Linked DNA regions of Homo sapiens. The protein of the gene in region 2 purifies or fractionates together with the protein of the main gene of each other region. This does not show direct contact. Each region holds a gene or a part of one and is shown on either strand. Other genes may lie near its edges.

Evidence for each region.
Region 1: the proteins of CDH19 (region 2) and MBIP purify together in Homo sapiens (affinity purification with mass spectrometry; 2 studies listed by BioGRID and IntAct, with this or other methods). This does not show direct contact.

The regions. Positions count from the first base shown.
Region 1 is NC_000014.9:36,307,138-36,310,637, reverse strand, and holds part of MBIP (MAP3K12-binding inhibitory protein 1), read left to right. Parts: intron 1-2,448; coding exon 2,449-2,546; intron 2,547-3,500. UniProt on the Homo sapiens protein: Inhibits the MAP3K12 activity to induce the activation of the JNK/SAPK pathway. Component of the ATAC complex, a complex with histone acetyltransferase activity on histones H3 and H4.
Region 2 is NC_000018.10:66,569,591-66,573,090, reverse strand, and holds part of CDH19 (cadherin-19 isoform 1 preproprotein), read left to right. Parts: intron 1-774; 5' UTR 775-886; coding exon 887-1,081; intron 1,082-3,500. UniProt on the Homo sapiens protein: Cadherins are calcium-dependent cell adhesion proteins. They preferentially interact with themselves in a homophilic manner in connecting cells; cadherins may thus contribute to the sorting of heterogeneous cell types.

The DNA.
Region 1 (3,500 bases), on a different chromosome or scaffold from region 2:
GTCTGTCTCCTGCTAGATAGTCCGTGAGAGTGCAACTATGTCTGTCATATTCATTTCTTTGTACCTATTACAGTGCCTGGCACAAAGCAAGTGCTCAAATGTTTATTGAATGGACAGTTGCTTATTTCACCTTTGCAGATGTATGTACGGAGGGACAGAAAGTTAGTGTTTGACTCTCTCAGGGTAGGTCAAGGGATGATGGCATCCTAATGAAGTGACATTTGAGGCCTTGAAGGATTAGTAGGAATTTTCCAGAGCAAAGCATTCCAAAAAGAAGAAACACCATTTGCAAAAAAGGACAAAAACACAAAATATGGTTCAGGAGATATCTGAATCCAGTATAGCTGGAGTATACTAGCTATCTGAAGCTATGCTAGCCAGATGAAGGTAGAAGAAGAAAACAGAATGAGTAAGTCTTTGAGAGTAATAAGACACTGGCATTAAGAATTAATCTCTTCCCTCAGAAGTGGATGGGTTTAAAATGCCACTGTATAAAAGGATTGACTGGTTAAGTCTCTAATAATAGTATGAAACAGTTAAGTTTTTGGAAAAATATCTGTTGAATGTTTACTATGCTCCAAGCACTATTTTAGGCACAAGGGATACTGAGATGATATAATCATAGTCCCCAGCTTCAAGGACTTTATAATCCAAATGAGAGAAAGATTAATAGTGAAGTAGAGTTTTAAAGGAGTAATGAAAGGATGGGTGTAGTGGTGTGTGCCTATAATCCCAGTTCCTTGGGAGGCTGAGTGGGGAACAGAGCTTGAGTCCAGGAGTTTGAGACCAGCCTGGACAGTATAGTGAGAGTCTGTCCCAAAAAACTCAGGAGCACTGAAGAATGGTGGGGGCACAAGGAGCCTTTATGCGAATGAAGAGGTTTCGGCAGTGCCTGCGTTACCCAGTGAAGCTTGAACTGGCTCTTGAAAGATACAGAAGTAAGGCAGAGGACATTGTAGGTAAAGGGAGCAGCAAAAGCAAAGTCAAATGAACAAGTTAACTTATTTAAGAACAAGAACAACCAAGGTCCTAAGATTTCTTAAAATCCTCAAAATTTCTAGAATTTTTACATAACAAGTTGACAATTTTGATATAGAAATTTACCCGTATTCTTTAATTGCATAATGATTGGCTAATCATGTATTCATTCAGTCAGTAAATATCAAGCACCAGCTCTTTGCCATGCATTGTAGTCTTATGAACTGATGCTTCCTAGGTTTGTGCAGTGCACAAGCTGCACAGCCCTACCTAATGAACAAAACAGATAAAACTCTGTCCTCTTGGAGCTTATATTAGAATGGGGAAACAAATAATACAGAAAGAAAATATACTGAATGTTGGGTGGTAGTAATGGAATGGAGAAAATTAAGGTAAGGAGGATAAGGGAGTGCTGGGTAGGGGAGTGGTAGTACTGGTATTTTTAACAGAATAGTCAGAGAAGGTGTTACTGATAAGGTAACTTTTGAGCCAAGACTTGAAATTGACTTGGGATTATGGCGGTAGAGGGAACCAGCTGAAGCTTACAGGGTGCTTGGCCTCTTTGAATAACAGAAAAAAAGTAATCAAGTGGCTGGAACCATGTGGGCATAGGGAGAATATCCACATTGTGTATGGCCTTGTAGGCCATTGTGAGGGCTTTGGTATTTAATCTGAGTGAAATGATCAGGTATTGGAAGGTATTTAACCTCAGTGAAATGATCAGGTATTGGAAGCAGAGAAATGATGTGATCTAACTTATATTTTTAGAGGATCACTGGCTCCTGTGTTGAAAATACACTCTACGGAAGCATGGCAGAAACAGGGAGACCAGTTTGGGAGTTGCAGTAATCCAGGGAGAGGTGGAAGTGGTCTGGACCAGAAAGGCCACAGTGTGGAGGGGGTGAGAAGTAGAAGGATTCTTGATATAATCATAAATTTAAAATTTGAGTGGCCATAATTTACTCTTCCCCTCCTCAGAAAGTTTGTTAGTTTAGAATTATGGTAAAGCCCCTTTTTTACATTCTTTTAGGTCAAAGGAAAAATATGGCATGTAGGGAGAAATATTAATTGAAGAAAATAATATGACATATTGCAACCACTGCATTGAATTATCGTCATTTGTCACTATGCATTTTTGTCCTCCCATGTAACTATCAAAGCATATCAGAAATATAAATTGTTCTACATGGAAGCTATTCAATATCTTGTAAAATGAATTTAACATGAAACTCCTAGAATATAGGAAGCATAAATGGGGTTTGGAGAGAGGAAGTGTAGTACAATATGTCCGATAGTGTATAATACAAAAATACGACCTAAGGACTTCATTCTGTTTTACTTTTGTTTTTTATTTTCTTAAGTATTTTCCATTCCTTTGCATAAGTGTCTTTGCATGGTATTTTAAGAATAAAAATTGTGAAAAGAAAGAATTATTCAATAGTATCTCAGATTTTTTTTTAATGTATTTAGGTGGTCCAGTGCCAAGAGACATTTATCAGAGAATTAAAAAACTTGAGGATAAAATCCTTGAATTGGAAGGCATCTCTCCTGAATATTTTCAGTCTGTAGTGAGTATAAGTGTCTTTTAAAAATAAATGAAAATGTTATTGTATTCTGGATTCTTTGTGGTTTAACAGTCACTCATTGATCTATAAGCAAAACACTATTTTAATAATTCAAAGATGAATGAACACAGTCCTGTATAGGGGATATATCTAATTCCTTAAAATCTCTGGTTCTGAATATTTTTAAAATTTAGAATTTTTAAAAAGGGATACTTCTATTATATATTACCCACATTCTCAAACTTAGGCCATTTTCATGGCATAGTAAGTCAGCCTGGGTGGTGGTTGGGCCTGTTACTCTGAACTTGCTACCTTGTAAAACAGAGGCTTCCTCTGTAACCTTGCTCTTTCAGTGATCCCTCTGCCTCTTTAATCTCTCTTCCCCAACAGGCTCCTTCTCTCAGCTCATATGCAGTTAATACTAAACAAACACACACCTCAAGCTGCCACTCTTATTCTTTACCTTAACCACCAGACTTTCTATGTTTTTGTAATTCCTTAACTCTAGCATTCATTCATTCTTACCCCGTTTTCCAAGAACCTTAAGAAACAGTGTTGTGCTGGTAAGTTAGTATCTTTGGCACATCAACATTTTTCAGAAAAATGATCCTGAGCTCATTGTGTTTTCCTCAGTCTTCTGAGGTGATTATGTATAATACCTGCCTTCTCTAAGTTTTGTTTTTTTTTTAAAGCAGTACCATATTAGAACTAAAATAATATCAAAGTGAGATTATACCAAAACTCCTATTTCTGAAAAATTATGTGAGATAGCCCATTTTAGCATGGATCATATAAGTTAGTGGTGAAAATATATTTAAAATTTATTTTAGGTATGACAGCAATCTTCCAAAGTTATAGATTGAGTATAAGAGTGAGTTACAGAAAAGAAGTATTTCCAGAAGAAGAAGGCAGGTCACGTAACAAAAGGGAGCAGCAAGTCCTAAATGACAAAATTTC
Region 2 (3,500 bases):
GTTTTAAATGTAAAACTCAATAGCCAGAGTCTTTTGTTTTAATATTTAAATACTAGAAGATACATTTCATATCATTCTTACATATTACAAACATTCACCCATTCTTACCCAGGAACAATCATTTTGTATTTATTGTCCTAAGAGGATTTTGTTTTTGTTAAGCTGATAAACACTTCTTCCCCATATCTTTGAAATTAAAAAAGAGTAAATATCTTATGCAAGCTTTCTATTCAGTGTTTTATAGTATCAGTGTAACTGATTATTGAATTCACCAGTTTTAAGCTGAATTGTCATTTTGTCTATTTAATTACTACATAAAATACCATAATTTGGGAAATTGGATGAGGAAGCTTATCTCTATCAAATATAAAAAGGAAAAATAAGACTTTTTTCCTCCTGGATTGACTGTTGCTTTAATGAGATAGTTTGTATTTTACTGAGAAAGAATGGAGAAAGTAAGCAAGTCAAATTAAAAGGAAGTCTATCTCAATGTCAGCTGTCAATCCAGGAGACTCCCAGAGCAATCTTTCAACTTTCAGGCAGATTTATGACTGCAGTTTAAAACTAGCAGTGCCTGAGTGGAAATTTATAATTATTCTAATCAAATTATTGCTGAGCTACAAATCATAATTAGCCAGCTTAATTGGAAGATAAATTAAATGTTTATTTTTATTCCACTTTTGTCAGATGCAGAAGTTGTAACCTGTCTTTAGTAATTATGTGAGAAAATGTTATTTTAAAATGTCAAATTTTGTTTTGTTTCTGACGCTTTAGGTATATAGAAGGTACACAGAATCAGAAAAGATTATAAAAGAAAGCAAGATTTTTGTTAGTGACGTCCTGTTTCCTCTGAAGAGTAATAGTTGGAATCAAAAGAGTCAACGCAATGAACTGTTATTTACTGCTGCGTTTTATGTTGGGAATTCCTCTCCTATGGCCTTGTCTTGGAGCAACAGAAAACTCTCAAACAAAGAAAGTCAAGCAGCCAGTGCGATCTCATTTGAGAGTGAAGCGTGGCTGGGTGTGGAACCAATTTTTTGTACCAGAGGAAATGAATACGACTAGTCATCACATCGGCCAGGTACTTATTTATTTAAAATGTTACAGTAAATAGCACAACAATGTAAATAAATATGTTGGAGAAGTTTGGAGATTTGATGAGTTCCACATTTTTACAGTGAAGCCATTGAAAAGCTTCAAACAGCAGCATCAATAATTGTTTCAGATTTGCAAGCACCTAAAACATCCACTAAAATCTTGAAGAGGGATAGCTCTGGTTTTTAAATTTCACTTCAGTATCCCGTATGAAAATGCAGCCCTCATTTTCAACATCTGGAAACTTTATTGCGTTATTTTTGGTAATGAATCTAAGCAGTCACAGTGAGACAAATATCATTTACCAACAGTATTTAGCCCGATTTTCTGTTACGCTAAGTAGCTGTTGATTTACCCCTCGTTCATTTTTAATGAAGCAGGTTAATACCATATTCTCCTACAGTTAAGTAGCTTCAGGAGCCTACACACTTAAATTGATTAGTAAAGTTAAAGTAAAAGGAATAATTATGTTCACTTTCTTAAAAGAATATATTTTAAGAACAATTCCTTAATGAGACAAAGCATCTCCTATTTATGTTTTTGGCTTGTATTTTATTATTTGGTTTTCTTTAAACAAAGGTGATTACAATATCATGTCCTTTTCCATAAGGCTTTTTCTCTAGATAAATGAACTGAAATAAGTTTAACCGCTAATTAACTGGCACTAAAATTTAATTGGGCCCAAAGGGTGAAGCACTCAAAATTTATTAACTCTCATTTTCTAGCCCTTTCAGGAGAGCTGCAGTGTTAGCATGGTATCTGGATTCCATAGAACTTCACCTGTGTTATCAGCCAAATGTATATGAGTACATTCAACCAAAGCCTTAGATTAGGATTTTAGGCAAGTATTTCCAAACGTGCAGGGAGGAGGGTGTATTGTGAACACACACACACACGCATACACACACACACACATTACAAGAAATATTTCTCAACCCCTTTTATTTTCGACTCAGACTACAGGTAAATAATACGCACAGTTGGCACTAAGAAGGTCCACAGTTAGGTGCCGACTCAGTAACTGAGTCTCTAGCTACCTTTACAGTGGACTGCACAGAACACCATATACTCTCCCATCACTGAATGGGGTGACAGGCTAAAATCAGCTATTGGCTTTTAGTAAATAAGGTGTTATAGGGAAGTGCATCAGTGTAATTGGAACACAGGCCACCTCTGGGGCTGTCACATTTTCTAGTTTGTTTGTTTCTACTCCCCACATGAATCTCTGTTTACCTCCTTTCTCACAGTGATTGGTTTTGCCTATTTTTTCATTTCAGAGACATATTTATGAAACTACTCTGAAAAATGTTTTTCTGCTACACAAACTCATCAGGCTTAAAAAACAAGTGAATCACTGATTTCAAAAAGAACAATAATGAATGTTTAGGTGCTTGTCAAAAGAGTTAGTAAATATACAATTTAGCTGCTGCGTTCAAGATAACTCTCTTTGATCCATTTGTTTGAAAAATGATTAAGATTGGGAAGTACAATTAAGTGAAAATTTGAAGTGATATTTGTTTAGCAAATTGATAGTAGCAGCCTAATTAGGAAAATATTTTTTGAATAAAAATATAGAAAATTGTATAATACTACAGGCCATTTGATTGAAATGTGTTTAACATATGCATTTTATGACATTAAAAGGCTGGTGTTCAAGTAAGCTTTTTCGTTTTTGTTTCTGTCTTCCCTTAAATCTGGGTCTTAAAAATGTCAAGCTTACTTGTCTTTGAAAATTACACTGCACATATACTTGCAATATATTTACTTATTACTAAACTTAATTTATCTTCATTATAATATCAAATAAATTATCAAATCATATTGAAATGATATAATTTAAAAATATGAACCATACATTGCTCACTTGATATATTGATTTGATTGTATAATTTGTTCCTCAATTTCTTACATCATCGCATGAAGAATTTCTTTTAGGAATAATTAAGAACTATCAAAAGAAGTATTACCAGAAAGACAATCTGGATGTTATTTTTCATTACATAGCATTGATATTCGGCATGTTATTAAAATGCAAAATTAGTTACTAGTACCTTCAGATTTTCTCCACAACCGCAAAGAAAGTGTATTAATTTATCCAGTATAAGAAATTATAACTTAAGCCATCAGAAAAATCATGAATTTGTTTACAACTGATTTCATGATTATCTTTGTAAATTTTCAGAGGAACTCTTACTGTGAATAAGAGCATTTTCATAAATGGTGAATCAAGAAAATGTGGATTCACAATGATTAGGGAACCATGACATTCTTCTCTTACATACAAATAATTCTGATATGAAAAGCTATGTGATCATTTTAACTATATCAGAATTAGACGGGTTTTTTTACAGATAAATTAAAAATTCTAAATAATACCTCAACAGTATGAATGATGAACTAATTTA